Linked DNA regions of Homo sapiens. The protein of the gene in region 2 interacts with the protein of the main gene of each other region in a pairwise test. Each region holds a gene or a part of one and is shown on either strand. Other genes may lie near its edges.

Region 1 (7,035 bases), on a different chromosome or scaffold from region 2:
GGCTCAACACAGCCTCAATCTCCTGGGCTCAAGTGATCCTCCCACCTCAGCTTCCTGAGTAGCTGGGACCACAGTTGCACACCATCACACATAATTTTTTTTTTTTTTTTGAGTTAGAATCTCACTCTGTCTCAGGCTGGAGTACAGTGGCATGATCTCAGCTCACTGCAACCTCCACCTCCTGTGCTCAAGCGATTCTCTTGCCTTGGCCTCTTAAGTGGCACATGCCCCCATGCCTGGCTAATTTTTCTATTTTTAGTAGACAGGGTTTCACCATGTTGGCCAGGCTGGTCCTAAACTCCTAACCTCAAGGGATCTGCATGTCTCAGCCTCGCAAAGTGCTGGGATTACAGACGTGAGCCACCACACCCAGCCTAAATTTTTCTTTTTTTTTTGGTAGAGATGAGGTCTCACTATATGGGCCAGGCTGGTCTTGAACTCCTGGGCTCAAGCAATCCTCCCACCTCAGCCTTCCAAAGTGCTGGGATTACAGTTGTGAGCCACCACGCCTGGCTTAACACTCTTTTTTTTTTTCTGAGACAGAGTCTCGCTGTGTTGCCCAGACTGAAGTGCAGTGGAGCGATCTCAGCTCACTGCAACCTCCTCCTCCCGGGTTCAAGTGATTCTCCTGACTCAGTCTCCCGAGTACCTGGGATTACAGGCATGTGCCACCATGCCTAATTTTTGTATTTTCAGTAGAGACGGGGTTTCTCCATGTTGGTGAGGCTAGTCTTGAACTCCTGACCTAAGGTGATCAGCCTGCCTTGGCCTCCCAAAGTGCTGCGATTACAGGCATAAGCCACTGTGCCCGGCCTGGCCTAATGCTCTTGGCCAGGTGCAGTGGTTCATGCCTGTAATCCCAGCACTTTGGGTGGCTGAGGCAGGTGGATCATTTGAGCTCAGGAATTCAAGACCAGCCTGGGTAACACGGTGAAACCCCATCTCTACTAAAAATACAAAAAATTAGCCAGGCATGGTGGCATGCACCTGTAGTCCCAGCTACTCGGAAGACTGAGGCAGGAGAATCGCTTGAACCCAAGAGGCGGAGGTTGCAGTGAGCCGAGATCATGCCATTGCACTCCAGCCTGGGCAACAAGAGCGAACCTCCATCTCAAAAAAAAAAAAAACAAATTAGCCGGGTATGGTGGCCCTCGCCTGTAATCCCAGCTACTAGGGAGGCTGAGGCAGGAGAATTGCTTGAACCTGGGAAGCAGTTTGCAGTGAGCCCTGATCGTGCCACTGTACTCCAGCTCGGGTGACAGAGCAAGACTACATCTCAAAAATAAAATAAAATAAAAAAAGACCCATGCTATAACATGAAACATTTTCCTAAGTCTAACAAGCCACATACAAAAGACCACATACTGCAGGCTATTTATATGAAATGTCCATAACAGGCAAATCTATAAGACAGAAAGTAGATTAGAGATTACCTAGGGCTGGGAAAGATGGGGGAGTGACTGCTAATGGTATGGGTTTTCTTTTTCAGGGGTGATGAAAACATTCGAAGATTGACTGTGGCAATGGATATACAAGCTAGTTAATATAATAAAAAACAATGAATTGTACACTTAAAAGGGTAAATTGTATGCTATGTGAATTATATCTCAATAAAGCTGTTTAAAAGAGTAAGTATGTGTCGAGTCTGTAAGGGTCAGAACCACTAGTCTAGACCCCATCTGCCACATTTCTGGTATTTTAGGACTTTATAAAGGAAATAACAGTCCTTGCAGGGATGTGCTGAGCTCATGTAGACTTCCATTCCCTGGTACTCACCTCTGAAAGGCAGAGGGATCCATTCAGGCCAGGTGTGTGGATACTTGACATCGATGGTTGCTGGACATTAGCCATTTATGCCCATCCACACGGCTCCAGCCATCTCTGTGGGACACCCATAATAATGTTTACTTTACTTGTTCACAACTCATTAACAAAAATAAATCATTTACCAACTTTAATCCCATCCTGACAAAGTCAGCCATGTGATTACAAGTGTGATAAAGAGTCTGACTCCATTTTGGATGGTTGCTGACAGCTTTCAAGCCCCAACCCCTTTCTCCTTCTCCCTCTCATCTGGGCAAGCCAACAAGAAAGTCTGGGAGTTTCCTCCTTGGTGCCAGCAGGAAGTTCAAACTATGCAAGCCCCAACCCCAACCCCATTACCTAATCACAGTGAAAGCCCAGCCACAGCCGGGTGCACTGGATAACACCTGTAATACCAGCACTTTGGGAGGTTGAGGCAGGAGGATCACTTGAGCCTAGGAGTTCAAGGCCAGCTTAGACAATGTAGTGAAATGCCTTTAGCCAGGCGTGATGGTGCATACCTGAAGTCCCAGCTACTTGGTAGCCCAGGAGCTCAAGGCTGCAGTGAGCTGTGATCGTGCCACTGCACTCCAGCCTGGGTGAGACAGCAAGACCCTATCTCAAAAAAAAGAAAACAAAAATTAACAAAAATTATATAGTATCTTTGTGGTGAAAACTTGAAAAAGTTTACTCAAGACCTGAGAGGGCATTTGAGTAAGAGAGGAGCTAGACCAGGTACACAGATGAAAGGGCTGGGTACTGAAACCAGGACAACTCTCACTAGACCTGTAAAAGCAATGCCTTCCAAGCAAATCTCTGGAATAATTTTACTGATGCGTGACAAAATTCACACTGAAGAAGACAGCTTCCTGAAATATCCATGACAACTCCTTAAAAAACAAAAAGAAGAGAGGAAAAAGAGCTAGGAGTAGTTGTTTTGCCAAAGTCAAGGCTCCTCCTTAAAGTTCCAGTAAGCAAGCAACCCAGTGAAGGTACAGGAAGGACAGAGCCCCAAACAGACTTGGAGGCATTTAATAATTTAAAAGGTGATAAAGGTGGCCTCACACATTAGCAAAAGTAAGTATATCTCGTGCTGTCTTTTCAGATGGAAAAATAATTACAATTCCAAATTCACTCACGCTCACACACAGGCTTATAAGACCTAAATAGTATGTGAGAAAAAATTTTTTTGAATGATTAGAAATAATAGAACTAGGCTGGGCGCAGTGGCTCACACTTATAATCCCAGGACTTTGGGAGGCCGAGGCAAGTGGATCACCCGAGGTCAGGAGTTCGAGACCAGCCTGGCCAACATAGTGAAACCCTGTCTCTACTAGAAATACAAAAATTAGCCAGGCGTGGTGGCAGGCGCCCGTAATCTCAGCTACTCGGGAGGCTGAGGGAGAAGAATTGCTGGAACCCGGGAGGCAGAGGTTGCAGTGAGCCGAGATTGCACCATTTCACTCCAGCCCGGGCAACAACAGCGAGACTCAGTCTCAAAAAATAAATAAATAAATAAATATAGAACTACAAGAATATCTTTGAGTTATCAGAGTAGAAAAAAATTGTGGGTTTTTTTGTTGTTGTTATTTTTTATTTTTTTATTTTTCAGATGGAGTCTTGCTCTGTTGCCCAGGCTGGAGTGCAGTGGCGTGATCTCAACTCACTGCAACCTCCGCCTCCTGGGTTCAAGCAATTCTCTTGCCTCAGCCTCCTGAGTAGCCAGGACTACAGGTACCTGCCACCACACGCAGCTAATTTTACATCTATATCTATCTATCTATCTATCTATCTATCTATATATATATATATATTTTTTTTTTGAGACGGAGTCTCGCTCTGTAGCTGGGCTGGAGTGCAGTGGCGCGATCTCGGCTCACTGCAACCTCCGCTTCCTGGGTTCAAGTGACTCTCGTGCCTCAGCCTCCCGAGTAGTTGGGATTACAGGCACGCGTCACCACACTCGGCTAATTGTTTATATTTTTAATAGAGATGGGGTTTCACCAAGTCGGCCAGGCTGATCTTGAACTCCTGACCTCAGGTGATCTGCCTGCCTCGACCTCCCAAAATGCTAGGATTACAGGCATGAGCCATGGCGCCCAGCCAAGAATTTTTTTTTTTTTTTTTTTTTTTAAAGAGACAGAGTCTTGCTTTGATGCTCAGGCTTGAATGCAGTAGTATGATCATGGCTCACTGTAATCTTGAATGCCTGGGCTCAGGAGCCATGACCATAGGAGTATGCCATCACACCTGGATAATTTTTTTTCTTTTTTTTTTTTTTTTTGATACAGAGTTTTGATCTGTCACCCAGGCTGGAGTGCAGTGGTGCGATCTCTGCTCACTGCAAGCTCTGCCTCCCGGGTTCACGCCATTCTCCTGCCTCAGCCTCCCGAGTAGCTGGGACTTCAGGTGCCTGCCACCATGCCTGGCTAATTTTTTGTATTTTTAGTACAGACGGGGTTTCACCATGTTAGCCAAGATGGTCTCGATCTCCTGACCTCGTGACCCGCCCGCCTCGGCCTCCCAAAGTGCTGGAATTACAGGCGTGAGCCACCGCGCCTGGCCATTTTTTTTTTTTAAATGTTTTGTAGAGATTGGGTCTCACTGTGTTGCCCAGGCTGGTTTCAAACTCCTGAGCTCAAGTGATCCTCCAGCCTCAGATTCCCAAAGTGCTGGGATTAAGGCGTGAGCCACCACTACATCAAGCCAAAAAAAATTTCTTTTTTCTTCCTTTTTTTTTTTTTTTTTTTTTTTTGGAGACAGTGCCTCACTCTGTCACCCAGGCTGGAGTGTAGTGGCATGATCTCAGCTCACTGCAACCTCCGCCTCCTGGGTTTAAGTGATTCTCCTGCCTCAGCTGCCTGAGTAGCTTGGATTACATGTGCCCACCACCATACCCAGCTAATTTTTATATTTTTAGTAGAGATGGGGTTTCACCATGTCGGCCAGGCTGGTGTTGAACTCCTGACCTCAAGTGATCTACCCGCCTCAGCTTCCCAAGGTGCTGGGATTATAGGCGCGAGCCACTGCGCCAAGCCAAAGAATTTCTCAACTCACAAAAGGCACAAAACATAAAGAAAAAGATTTGAAACATCTTACTATATCAAAATGAGTAATACACCATGAACATAAGATTAAAAGAACATTCAAAGTACCATCTCTAGAATGGCTTATCAATTACAGAGGGGAAAAAGCGGAGGATCCTGGCAGAGAGCACTTTAACCACATGACAAAAACCTGATCACCACCAGCCTCACATGCTTCCTGACACGACACACCAAGAAGAACATGATGTCACTTAGACAATGCCCTGCCAAAGACGAGAGTCTGAATTTAATATTGGGAATGTCAACTGAACATCAAGTGACAATCTACACAACCACCAGCTGGGTCTTTTAAAAATATATCAATTTCATGAAAAAAAAAAAAAAAGAAAGGAGAGTGCCATTCAAGGTTGAGGAAGACTAAAATAACATGACAAGTCAATGTAACACAGGATCCTGGATTGGATCCTGGATCAAAACAAATACCCAAAAACCATACAAACTGTATCAGCTGCATACAAACTATATCAGACAGGAATTCTGTATCAATAATAAAGTATCTGGGGCCAGGCGCAGTGGCTCACACCTGTAATCCCAGCACTGTAGGAGGCCAAGGTGGGCAGATCACTTGAAGTCAGGAGTTCAAGACCAGCCTGGCCAACATGGCGGAACCCCGTCTCTACTAAAAATACAAATATTAGCTGGGCATAGTGGCACACACCTGTAATTCCAGCTACTTGGGAGGCTGAGGCAGGAAAACCACTTGAGCCTGGGAAGTAGAGGTTGCAGTGAGCCGAGATCGCTCCACTGCACTCTACCCTGGGTGACGGAGTAAGATTCCATCTTTAAAAAAAAAAAGTAGGTGGTACCTGGTCAAGAGAGGAAGGTAGTCCCTCTCCCTCTCCCCCTCCCCCTCTCCCTCTCCCCACGGTCTCCCTCTCCCTCTCTTTCCACGGTCTCCCTCTGATGCCGAGCCGAAGCTGGACGGTACTGCTGCCATCTCGGCTCACTGCAACCTCCCTGCCTGATTCTCCCGCCTCAGCCTGCCGAGTGCCTGCAATTGCAGGCACGCGCCGCCACGCCTGACTGGTTTTCGTATTTTTTTGGTGGAGACGGGGTTTCGCTGTGTTGGCCAGGCTGGTCTCCAGCTCCTAACCACGAGTGATCCGCCAGCCTCGGCCTCCCGAGGTGCCGGGATTGCAGACGGAGTCTGGTTCACTCAGTGCTCAATGGTGCCCAGGCTGGAGTGCAGTGGCGTGATCTTGGCTTGCTACAACCTCCACCTCCCAGCCACCTGCCTTGGCCTCCCAAAGTGCCGAGAGTGCAGCCTCTGCCCGGCCGCCACCCTGTCTGGGAAGTGAGGAGCATCTCTGCCTGGCCGCCCATCATCTGGGACGTGAGGAGCCCCTCTGCCTGGCTGCCCAGTCTGGAAAGTGAGGAGCGTCTCTGCCCGGCCGCCATCCCATCTAGGAAGTGAGGAGCGTCTCTGCCCGGCCGCCCATCGTCTGAGATGTGGGGAGCGCCTCTGCCCCGCCGCCCCATCTGGGATGTGAGGAGCGCCTCTGCCCGGCCGCGACCCCGTCTGGGAGGTGAGGAGCGTCTCTGCCCAGCCGCCCCGTCTGAGAAGTGAGGAGACCCTCCGCCTGGCAACCGCCCCGTCTGAGAAGTGAGGAGCCCCTCCGCCAGGCAGCCGCCCCGTCTGAGAAGTGAGGAGCCCCTCCGCCCGGCAGCCACCCCGTCTGGGAAGTGAGGAGCGTCTCCGCCTGGCAGCCACCCCGTCCAGGAGGGAGGTGGGGGGCCAGCCCCCCGCCCGGCCAGCCGCCCCGTCCGGGAGGTGAGGGGCGCCTCTGCCCAGCCGCCCCTACTGGGAAGTGAGGAGCCCCTCTGCCCGGCCAGCCGCCCCGCCCGGGAGGGAGGTGGGGGGGTCAGCCCCCCGCCCGGCCAGCCGCCCCGTCCGGGAGGGAGGTGGGGGGGTCAGCCCTCCGCCTGGCCAGACGCCCCGTCCAGGAGGGAGGTGGGGGGCCAGCCCCCCGCCCGGCCAGCCGCCCTGTCTGGGAGATGAGGGGCGCCTCTGCCCGGCTGCCCCACTGGGAAGTGAGGAGACCCTCTGCCCGGCCAGCCGCCCCGTCCGGGAGGGAGGTGGGGGGGGTCAGCCCCCCCACCCGGCCAGCCGCCCCGTCCGGGAGGT
Region 2 (3,063 bases):
CCTGGCCCTCAATCCCCCTACACACAAACACAGTTTATTCATGAGGATAGATGCCTTGTGAAAGGCCAGAAGTGAGCCATTAAACTACAATTACAGTTTCCAATAGAAACCTCAGTACAGGGATGGAATGGTTCAACATGCGGCTGAGACCCCACTACCCTTGCAATTTTCTGTGCTAAGCAACTACAGCATATTGAAGGCCCACATGCACCCTCCACTTCCTACTCCCCTCAATTTATAATGGTGATGAGGCATTTCTGGCTTCAGTTTCAACTACGTGTGGCAAACATCTCTAAGTAGACTGAACAGTTAGTAAGTTAGGTTAAGATATTAAAATGGGGAGCAGGGTCCACATCCCTGTTGAAATAGGAGCCTGCCTGGTAACAGGTGCAAAGCATGCCTTTAACTGCAACTAACCAGTTCAGTTGTGTGGCTTCTCACTGCAGGGGCGGCAAAGGAAGAAATCCTGAGTTACACCCTCACCTGAAGGAACAGACCTCACAAGAGAAGCAAATAAACATTTTATTTCCACAGCACGCCTTCCCTTTTCCCAAAGAACATGAGTTCACCTCAGCCATCAAAGCAGAGGGCGAAAGCTGCAAGTGACAAGGCAAGAGGCTCCTAGAAAAATAGATTATACCCAAGGCTCTCCTCCTGGGGACCCAAACCCGTCCCCAGGCTCCCCCTCAGAGCTTGCCAAATGGAGTGAAAGGCATGGAAAGGGGCTGGGAGAAAAGCCAGCTCCACTGAACAAAGGGGAGAGGAGCCTGGCAGTGAGCAGACCTGGGAGGGGTGTGGGGTGGGATGAGCTTTGCTCCTTGGTTGAGTGCTGGAAAAGGGAAGGGGGAAGAAATAATTTATGTTGATGTAATTAATGTAATGATGATGTAATGGTGCGTGGTTTCAATCATGGCGACCATTCCAGATCTCTCTCAAGTGAAGCTAAATTCTGGCCGGTCTATGGAGGTAGAAATTGAGGACGGAAGGAAAGTTTAGAATCCCTCCTCCCCAGGAGAATAGACATTTATTACCCAGCTCTACCCTTTGGCCCAGCCTGCCTCCCCAAATGGCTTCCAAATCCCTCAGCTAAAATCTGCATCAGAAAATGGAATTGGAATGGGGATGTTGCCTTGCCCAAACCCTCCAGCCTCAGAACTGATAAAGAGGTTGAAGAGCAGGGGTGGGGAAAAGGAAGTTAAGGAATGAAATTACAATTTCCCCTCATCCCCTACTCAAATTCCAGTCCCAGGGCTGGGCTAGGCAGACTGGGAGAGAAGACCAGGCAGCTGTTCTCATTATCAGGGACCCATGCAGACCTGTTGGACAGACATAGTAGGTGAGAGAAGGCTGAGCTGGAGGCCAGGAGGGTTCTTTAGGCTCCTAGAGGGAGAAGCAGGGGCCTGGGGTCAAGGGGGAGTGGGAAGCAACACAGTAACAAGCAGTGGGAAGAGCCTTTGAGCCCTCAAACTTACGGGCCACCCTCCACCACCCACCCCCCAAGTGCTGACAGAGGGGCCCCTGCGGGTGGCAGGATAATCAAGGGCAGAGCTTGATGCGGGTGCCCTTGGAGAGCACCCGGAAGAAAGGAAAGACACGCTCGCCCAGGAAGGCAGCCGAGAAGGTGTGCACGTGGGCTAGAGTCTCTGCGTTGTAGAAGCCCAGGCGCCCAGCTTCATAGTCCAGGTACACACCAAAGCGCCTTGGTTTCTCACTGGGGCTCAGCAGCGTCTGTTCTGTGGAGCTCTGGGCCTGATAGCGTTTGCCGTTGGTGCCCACGCACCACACTTCCCGCTGGAGCAGGGGCTGCTGGGGCAGGTGGAGCCGGCGGCGGCGATGGTGATGGCGCGAGGAGCTGGCATCCCCGCTGCCCACGGAGGAACCCCCAGGGCCCACCTTTTCCTTATGATGGGTTGATTCACGGGCAGCACCCACCGCCCAGCCCCGCCGCCCGCCCACCTCTACCTCCCAGTAGTGCCGGCCGGAGCGGAAGCCCTGGGCCCCCAGTACGCAGCAGTCGGCCGAGAAGCGCTTGGGATGGTCAGCAACCTCCTGCCGCCGCTCTGCCAGGCGGACCCCCCGGCGGTCAGGGGACAGCATCAGGGCCGGGTGAGCCGTGTCAGGGTCCAGCGTCAGGTCCACTTGGGAGGGAGGGAGGACAAATACGCCAGGGCTGGAACGGCTGTTCCCCTGTCAGCAGCCAACTCCACAGATTGGGCCCCCTTTCTCCCTGAATCCAGCTCCCCACACCATCCCAGAGGCCAGCCTCAGATTCCTGCAGGCTCATCTTGCTCCTCACTCTTGTTCCTAGGATACCTGACAGGTCTTCCCCCAGCCTGGCTCTTCCTGCCACTCCACCCCACCCCACCCTCCAGGCCTGCCTGCACTAGGTCTACCTGCTCATGGCTTGAAACCTCAACCTCAGAGTGGCTGCCTGGATCCTGCTCCATCTCAAGCCCCACAGTTTCCCTGGGGCCCAACTTCCCTCAGGACCCAGTCTCAGGTCTGTGAAGGGAAAGGCAAAGGAAGGTCGTGGAGGTGACCTCCCTACCTCTCGCAGCCTGACAGAACATCCGGCTCATTTTCCTCACGATGGCATCTGTCAGGAAGTCATGGCTATGGGGTTGGCACGGGTCAGGGGACCAGACCTCTGGGGGCTGCAGCTGTACCTCTTCACACCTGGAGGAAGGGGACCGGGCAGGGGGTGGGACCACGATATTCCCAGAGGGAAAAGCAAAAGCTGAGGGGAAGGAGAGGAGGGTCCAGGAGATGGAAACTCAGGTCCTGGGGAAGGAAGGAGAGGAGAGGGATACCGAAGAGAAGCAGGGACAGGGAACCAGATGCCACTGGGTCACGAAGGGCAAAGACTGGGAACACACCTATTGAAAGTCTCCTTGATGTCCTGGGAATAAGAGAAACAAAAAGAGGGAGAGGGAGAAAGAGATAAAGAGAGTGTCAGCTGCACAGGGACAGCGTTCCCCGATCTCCAGTCAGAGACTGAACCTGAGCAGGAAGGGAGAAGCAGCACCCTCACGGCCCTCAATGAACACACATCCATTTCAACCA
Region 3 (7,629 bases), on a different chromosome or scaffold from region 2:
TAACGCTTTGTACTGTGGCATGCCTGGGCATCTAACAAAGGCAAAAAGGAGAAAAAAGGAGAAAAAGGGGGGGTACTATGAATTAGAGAATAAAAGATTGATGAGATTATTTGAAGAGAAACCTCATCATATCCTCATATCCCACAGTGTGACTCTCCAAAAGTCAATATAATATACAATAATAACTGTTCTAGGTAAAAAGACACTGAAAACATTAACAATTGCAATGTAAAAATCTTGAATGGATCTTAAACCCAAAAACATCCAAGAGCATACGTTGAATCAATGCGGAGAATTTTAGTTATTATAAAAAGCAGACATTAGATGACATTATTATTTTTTATTTAAGTGAAATACTAGTATTGTGGTTTCAGAATGACAGTGCTATTTTTTTAGGCGATGCATTACCAAGTATTTAAAGGTCAAGTATCACGTGTGCAATTATGCTCAATTTACACTCAAATTGTTCACCATAAAATGTATTTACCTGAGGTGAAAGAAAACAAGCACAATGCTCAAAAAGTAAGTGTTCAGGCACAGTGGCTCACACCTGTAATCCCAGCATTTTGGGAGGCCGAAGCAGGTGAACTGCCTGAGCTCAGGATTTCGAGACCAGCCTGGCCAACATGGTGAAACCTTGTCTCTACTAAAATACAAAAAAAAATTAGCTGGGCATGGCGGCATGTGCCTGTGTCCCAGCTACTAGGTGTCAGGCCTCTGAGCCGAAGCCAAGCCATCAGACTCCCTGTGACCTGCACGTATACATCCAGATGGCCTGAAGCAACTGAAGAACAACAAGAAGAAGCGAAAATAGCTAGTTCCTGCCTTAACTGATGACATTCCACCATTGTGATTTGTTCCTGCCCCAACCTAACTGATCAATTGACCTTGTGACATTCCTTCTCCTGGACAATGAATCTCAGGAGCTCCCCACTGAGCACCTTGTGATCCCCGCCCCTGCCCGCAAGAGAACAACCTCCTTTAACTGTAATTTTCCACTATCTACCCAAATCCTATAAAACTGCCCGACCCCTATCTCCCTTTGCTGACTCCTTTTCTGAACTCAGTCTGCCTGCACCCAGGTGATTAAAAGCTTTATTGCTCATACAAAGCCTGTTTGGTGGTCTCTTCACATGGACGCACCTAATGCTAGGGAGGCAGGAGAATTACTTGAACCTGGGAGGCAGAGGTTGCAGTGAGCCGAGATCGCACCTCTGCACCCCGACCCGGGTAGCAGAGCGAGACTCTGTCTCAAAAAAAAAAAAAAAAAAACTACTAGACTGGGTGTGTTAGATGTTCAAGTTTTCCCTAGGATCAAATTTTTCAGAAAAAAATGTCAAAACTACACTTAGTCTAAACATGCTGTTAATAAATTCAATAGATACTACTTTATTACACTAATACTAGAATAATATTCTGATTATAAAGCCTCCATCCTGGCCAGGAGCGGAGGCTCACGCCTGTAATCCCAGCTCTTTGGGAGGCCGTCAGGCGGATTACAAGGTCAGGAGTTCGAGACCAGCCTGGCGAGCATGGTGAAACCCTGTCTCCACTAAAAATACAAAAAAAAAAAATTAGCTGGGCATGGTCCCCATGCCTGTTGTCCCTGCTACTCGGAGGCTGAGGCAGGAGAATCACTTGAACCCAGGAGGTGGAGGTTGCAGTGAGCTGAGATCGCGCCACTGCACTCCAGCCTGGGCGACAGAGCAAGACTCCGTCTGAAAAAAACAAACAAAAGCCTCCATCCTTTCTTCCTGTGGGCCCGTTTTGAAGCTCTGTGGGGGGGTACAGACCTAGGAACTTCAGATAAAGACAACAGCTGTGTATTATTGCCTTTCTTTCTTTTTTGAGACGGAGTTTCGCTCTCATCGCCCAGGCTGGAGTGCAGTGGCAGATCTCGGCTCACTGCAACCTCGGCCTCTCAGGTTCAAGCAATCCTCCTGCCTCAGCCTCCCAAGTAGCTAGGATTACAGGGGACTGCCACCAAGCCTGGCTTTTTTTTTTTTTTTTTTTTTTTTGTGTGTGTGAGACGGAGTCTCCCTCTTTTGCCCAGGCTGGAGTGCAGTGGCGCGATCTCGGCTCACTGCAAGCTCCGCCTCCCGGGTTCACGCCATTCTCCTGCCTCAGCCTCCCGAGTAGCTGGGACTACAGGCGCCCGCCATCGCGCCTGGCTAATTTTTTGTATTTTTAGTAGAGACAGGGTTTCACCATGTTGGCCAGGCTGGTCTCGAACTCCTGACCTCAGGTGATCTGCCCGCCTCGACCTCCCAAATGGCTGGGACTACAGGCGTGAGCCAGCGCGCCCAGCCTGCCTTTCTTTTGTAGAAAGGCTTGTAGCTGGTAACAACAAAAAACATTAAGTCCAAGAAAATAAAATAAGAAACTAAAGGCTCACAGTCTACACGTGTTCATATTTACATGCAGATATAGGCACACCCTAAACGACTATTTTTTTTCCATCAGAAAGTAATGTGTCAAAAATAAGAATAGGACATCAATGCCAGATTCTCAGACGAGACATTTTTAAGCAAAGAAATGGAAGTCAGAGCCCTCTTGAAACCAATTTTCTGCAGGTGTTCACCAGGAACATGCCGGAAACGCCAGGTTCCTGAGGCGCGGAAATGCGGGGCCGGAGCCAACCTGACTGGAACGGCAGAAATCCTTTTACTTTCAGAAAGAAAGAAACTCACAAAGGTTGCTTTCCAAGCTTTTGAAGAAGGGAGCACAGCGGATGAAACCACTCCAGAAAACGCGCGGAGTCGGGACAAACACACTTCCCGACCTGGCTCCTGACTGGGACCCACTGAGCCTGCGGCCTCTAGCCACTGGCCGCGCAAGGAGGACCGACAGCCCCTGGAGAAGAGAGTGAAACGAGGCGGATCGGAGAGGCTCCTGGGCGACAGCACCCAATCGTTCCTTTGCCGCCCCCCGCTATCTCCGGGATCCCCAAGCAGGCGGAACTCACCACAGCCAGGGTGGACTCCACCACGATAAAGGCGAAATGGCACTGACCATGCGGAGCCAGCGCCGGAAAAGATGGCGATTGTGCGCTGACGTCACTTCCGCTCCGAGCCTCGGGCCGGGCGGGGCTCCTGGGTTCGAGTTTCAGCCACATAGGACCCAGTCAAACACAGAAATTGTAGTTTCTTCCCGGGTGGGCGCGGACAGGCCCTTACTTGGGGGCGGTTTAGAGGTGGGACCCGGCTAGCCGGCGGTTCAGGTGGCCGGACCTGCTGGAAGGGCGGGCGTGGGGGATGGGACGCACCCCAGGGGATGCTCCTGCAGAGCTTTTCCCAGGTGGGCACAGTGGCTAAGGCCTGTAAGTCCAACACTTTGGGAGGCTAAGGCAGGTGGATAGCTTGAGTCCAAGAGTTCAAGACCAGCGTGGGCAAAATAGCAACATCCTTTATTAAAATATATATGTGTGTATACATATATATAAAGCTTGTTTGTATACATCTCATGTTCCTAGAGCCTTTCCATGATTCTTCCATATGGATAAAGCTGCCAGTGAATGGCATGGTCTATCTCTTCTATTCAGTCAGGCTTTCTGTAGGCCTTTATTTCTTCATTCTTTATTTTTTAGAACCTGCTGGTTCCATTGCGTTTTCTTTTTTCGTTTTTCTTTTTCATTTTTTATTTTTTTTTGAGACAGATCTCACTCTGTTGCCCAGGCTGGAGTGCAGTGGCATGACCTCGGCTCACTGTAACCTCTGCCCCCCGGGTTCAAGTGATTCTCCTGCCTCAACCTCCCGAGTAGCTGGGATTACAGATGTCTGCCTCCACGCCCAGCTAATTTTTGTACTTTTAGTAGAGAAGAGTTTCACCATGATGGCCAGACTGATCTCGAACTCCTGACCTCCAATGATCTGTCTCCCTCAGCTTCCCAAAGTGCTGGAATTATAGACATGAGCCACCGCACCCGGCCACGTTTTCAATATAATAATATTTTCTGTAAATCTTGATTTTTTTTTGTCTTCATCAAGTATGTATTTCTGGCTGGGTATGGTGGCTTATGCCTATAATCCCAGCAATTTGGGAGGCCAAGGGATCGTTTGAGGCCAGGAGTTTGAGACCAGCCTGGGCAATACAGCAAGACCCCGTCTCTGTTTAAAAAAAATTTTAAATATGTTTTTGTTTTTGTTTTGAGATGGAGTCTAGCTCTGTTGCCCAGGCTGGAGTGCAGTGGCACGATCTTGCTCACTGCAACCTCTGCCTCCCGGGTTCAAGCGATTCTTCTCTCTCAGCCTCCTGAGTAGCAGAGATTACAGGCAGGCGCCGCCATGCCCGGCTAATTTTTGTATTTTTAGTAAAGACAGGGTTTCACCATATTGGCCCAGTTGGTCTCGAACTCCTGACCTCATGATCCGCCTGCCTCACCTTTCCAAAGTGCTGGGATTACAGATGTGAGCCACCACGCCTGGCCAAAAACATGTATTTCTATTGTTATTTTTCTGATCTTCCCACATGGGCCAGGACCACATTTCCTACATTGTAAAATAGCACTGACACCAGACATTCTCCCCAGGTTTATTCAGAAATGTAACATAATCCCAGTAAAAATATTAAAAGTTTTTTCTGGAGTTAGGTACGTTGATACTAAAGTTTATGTGGAAGAATAAATATCTGATAATAACCAAGAAAACAAAAACAAAAGCAATGATGAGCAGCAGATGTTAAAACATACTATTAACAGTTTTCACACAAGGCAAATAATTAAATTATATTAAAATAAAAATAAATAAGACATACTATAAAGCCTCTATAATTAAAACTATGTGGTACTAGCACATGAAGCAGAAACAGACTAATAAAATATCTAAAAACAGACCCAAGAACATGTAGGAATTTGGTTCATAAATGTGGTATTTTGCCAGGCGCGGTGGCTCATACCTGTAATCCTAGCAATTTGGGAGGCTGAGGCGGGAGGATCACCTGAAGTCAGGAGTTCGAAACCAGCCTGTCCAACATGGTGAAACCCTGTCTCTAATAAAAATACAAAAATAAAATTAGCCAAGCATGGTGGTGGGCTTTCTGTAATCCCAGCTATTCGGGAGGCTGAGGCAGGAGAATCGCTGAAACCCAGAAGGCAGAGGTTGCAGTGAGCCGAGATCGCGCCACTGGACTCCAGCCTGGGCAACAAGAGTGAAAATCCATCTCAAAAAAAAAAAAAAAAGGTATTTCAGATCAATGAGGCAAAAAAAGCCATTTGTAATGGAAAGTCTAAGACAGCTGGGTAGCCATCAGAGAAAAGATGAAATTAAATCCATACTTCACAGCATATACAAGAATAAACTCTAAATGGACTAGGGATCTAAATGTGAAAAATAAAACCATATACGCATTCAGGGTGTAAGTGATTTCTTGGCTGAGTAAGGAAAAAGACGTGACCACAAGGCGGCAGTAGCACACAAGCTTCATTTGGGATGTGCTTTGACAGGTAAGGAGTGGCGGGAGGTAGCAAACAGCAAGAGAATATCCACAGGCTTCTACCTGTGGGTCGCTGCTCAGAAAGGGTGGAAAGGAAGAAAGACTCCCAGAGGAGAAGGGGAATCAAAGAGGGGGCTTATATGACTAAGTGACGATGCTCAGCAGCCTGGCAGCATATCTTCCAGTTAAAAAGTTCTGAAGGACAAGTCTGGCCAACATGGTGAAACTCCGCCTCTACTAAAAATACAAAAATTAGCCGGGCATGGTGGCGGGCGCCTGTAATCCCAGCTACTCGGGAGGATGAGGCAGGAGAATTGCTTATACCCGGGAAGCGGCGGTTGTATTGAGCCAAGATCGCGCCATTGCACTCCAGCCTGGGCGATAGAGTGAGACTCAGTCTCAAAAAAATAAAAATAAAATATGTAATTATCTGTTCATTCTGAGTACAGGGAAACACTGATAGGACTATCCTGAAAATAATAAGATTCAGAATCTATCGGGGATAGATGGGAAGGGCTTGAACAGAATGGTGGGATAAGAACAAAATGGAGAGGATAGGGATAGGGAAACCTCTCTGAGCATATCATTCTGTTTAGTTCTGATGTTTAAAATCACATTCTACTTTTTTTTTTTCTTTTTGACAGGGTTTCACTCTGTCACACAGGCTGGAGTGTAGTAGCGTTATCATTGCTCAGTGCAGCCTTTACTTTGTGAGCTCAAGTAATCCTCCTGCCCAAGTACCAGGGAATACATATGTACACCACCACATCCAGCTAATTTTTAAAAATATTTTGGGTAGAGAAGAGATCTCTCTATGTTGCCCAGGCTGCTCTTGAACTTCCAGTCTGTCACATATAAAGTTTTGGTGCCACAAAAGAAATAACACTTGAATATAAAATTTTCTTTTTAATTCTCAGCAAGGCAAGATACTTCTATAGAAGGGTGCACTCTCACAGATGGAGCAATGGTGGGCACACACCTGGACAAGGGAGGGAAAGGGGTTCTTATTCCTGACACACGTGGTCCCTACTGCTCTGTCGTTCCCCTACTGGCTAGGGTTGGACCTCACAGGCTAAACTAATTCCGATTGACTAATTTAAAGAGAGTGATGGAGTGAGCGGTTTGGGAAAAGGGTGCTTTATGAGGAAGTTAAGTTTAAAAGTAGAAGGCAAAGAATTGAGCATACTGACATATTAATTCTTTGAAGAGAAATTTATAATTCATTTTCAACAACTTCCTCCTCTTGCATTTTTTTTATGGCTTTCTCTTCAAACTTATTTAACATGTCTTGACTTAGTTGTTCTGCTTGATTTTCCAAAAGAAGGAGCTTCTCTGGATAAGGTGGAGGATAGTTAAAGGAGGTTTTAGTAAGTGCCATTTCTATGAGCCTCTGCACCAACCTACAGATGCATGGTATGACACGGCACCTGACAAGGATAAGTACACCCATTACGGCTACAAGGGAGGTGAGAATTGAGGCTATTATTCCTTTCCATTTACCGAACCACTTTTCTAGCCATTCTGTAAATGGGTAATTTACCCCTGAATTGCTGGCCAACTCATTGGATAGAGGAGTCAGGCCTTGCAATGCCTTTCTTATACTTCCATTAGGGGCCGTGTTGTTTGGGATGAAGTTGCAACAATGAGTTTTAATAATGATGCAAACTCCTCCTCTTTCTGCTAATACCATGTCTAAAGCTATCCTATTTTCCCAAGCCATCAGGTTAGTAGCCCCCAATTGCTCAGCTATTCCTTTAACAGCATCTCTAGTGTAGTTAATAAATCGCTGTTGGTTGTAATAGATGTAGTTTACCCAATCTACATTTTTTTTTTTTTGAGATGGAGTCTCACTCTGTCACCCAGGCTGGAATGCAGTGGTGCGATCTTGGCTCACTGCAAGCTCCGCCTCCTGGGTTCATGCCATTCTCCTACCTCAGCCTCCTGAGTAGTTGGGACTACAGGCACCTGCCACCATGCCCGGTGAATTTTTTGTATTTTTAGTAGAGACAGGGTTTCACCGCGTTACCCAGGATGGTCTCAATCTCCTGACCTTGTGATCCGCCCGCCTCGGCCTCCCAAAGTGCTGGGATTACAGGCATGAGCCATCGCGCCCGGCCCACCCAATCTACATTTTTATTAACTGTCGCCTACCAAAATATTGACTTAAATCCTGCAGCTATTGGATTTTGGGCTTTAAAT

The links. The genes of interacting proteins can lie anywhere in the genome.
Region 1: the proteins of TRIM41 (region 2) and ZNF329 interact in binary tests that used the Homo sapiens proteins (3 or more experiments, as listed by UniProt).
Region 3: the proteins of TRIM41 (region 2) and ZNF121 interact in binary tests that used the Homo sapiens proteins (3 or more experiments, as listed by UniProt).

The regions. Positions count from the first base shown.
Region 1 is NC_000019.10:58,140,781-58,147,815, forward strand, and holds part of ZNF329 (zinc finger protein 329), read right to left. Parts: intron 2,419-7,035; 5' UTR 2,325-2,418; intron 1,882-2,324; 5' UTR 1,800-1,881; coding exon of another isoform or gene 1,777-1,799; intron 1-1,776. UniProt on the Homo sapiens protein: May be involved in transcriptional regulation.
Region 2 is NC_000005.10:181,233,249-181,236,311, reverse strand, and holds the end of TRIM41 (E3 ubiquitin-protein ligase TRIM41), read right to left. Parts: intron 2,900-3,063; coding exon 2,877-2,899; intron 2,677-2,876; coding exon 2,549-2,676; intron 2,139-2,548; coding exon 1,537-2,138; 3' UTR 1,381-1,536; coding exon of another isoform or gene 1,222-1,380; 3' UTR 959-1,221; coding exon of another isoform or gene 908-958; 3' UTR 504-907; downstream 1-503.
Region 3 is NC_000019.10:9,581,496-9,589,124, forward strand, and holds the start of ZNF121 (zinc finger protein 121), read right to left. Parts: upstream 3,010-7,629; 5' UTR 2,966-3,009; intron 2,854-2,965; exon of another isoform or gene 2,691-2,853; intron 1-2,690. UniProt on the Homo sapiens protein: May be involved in transcriptional regulation.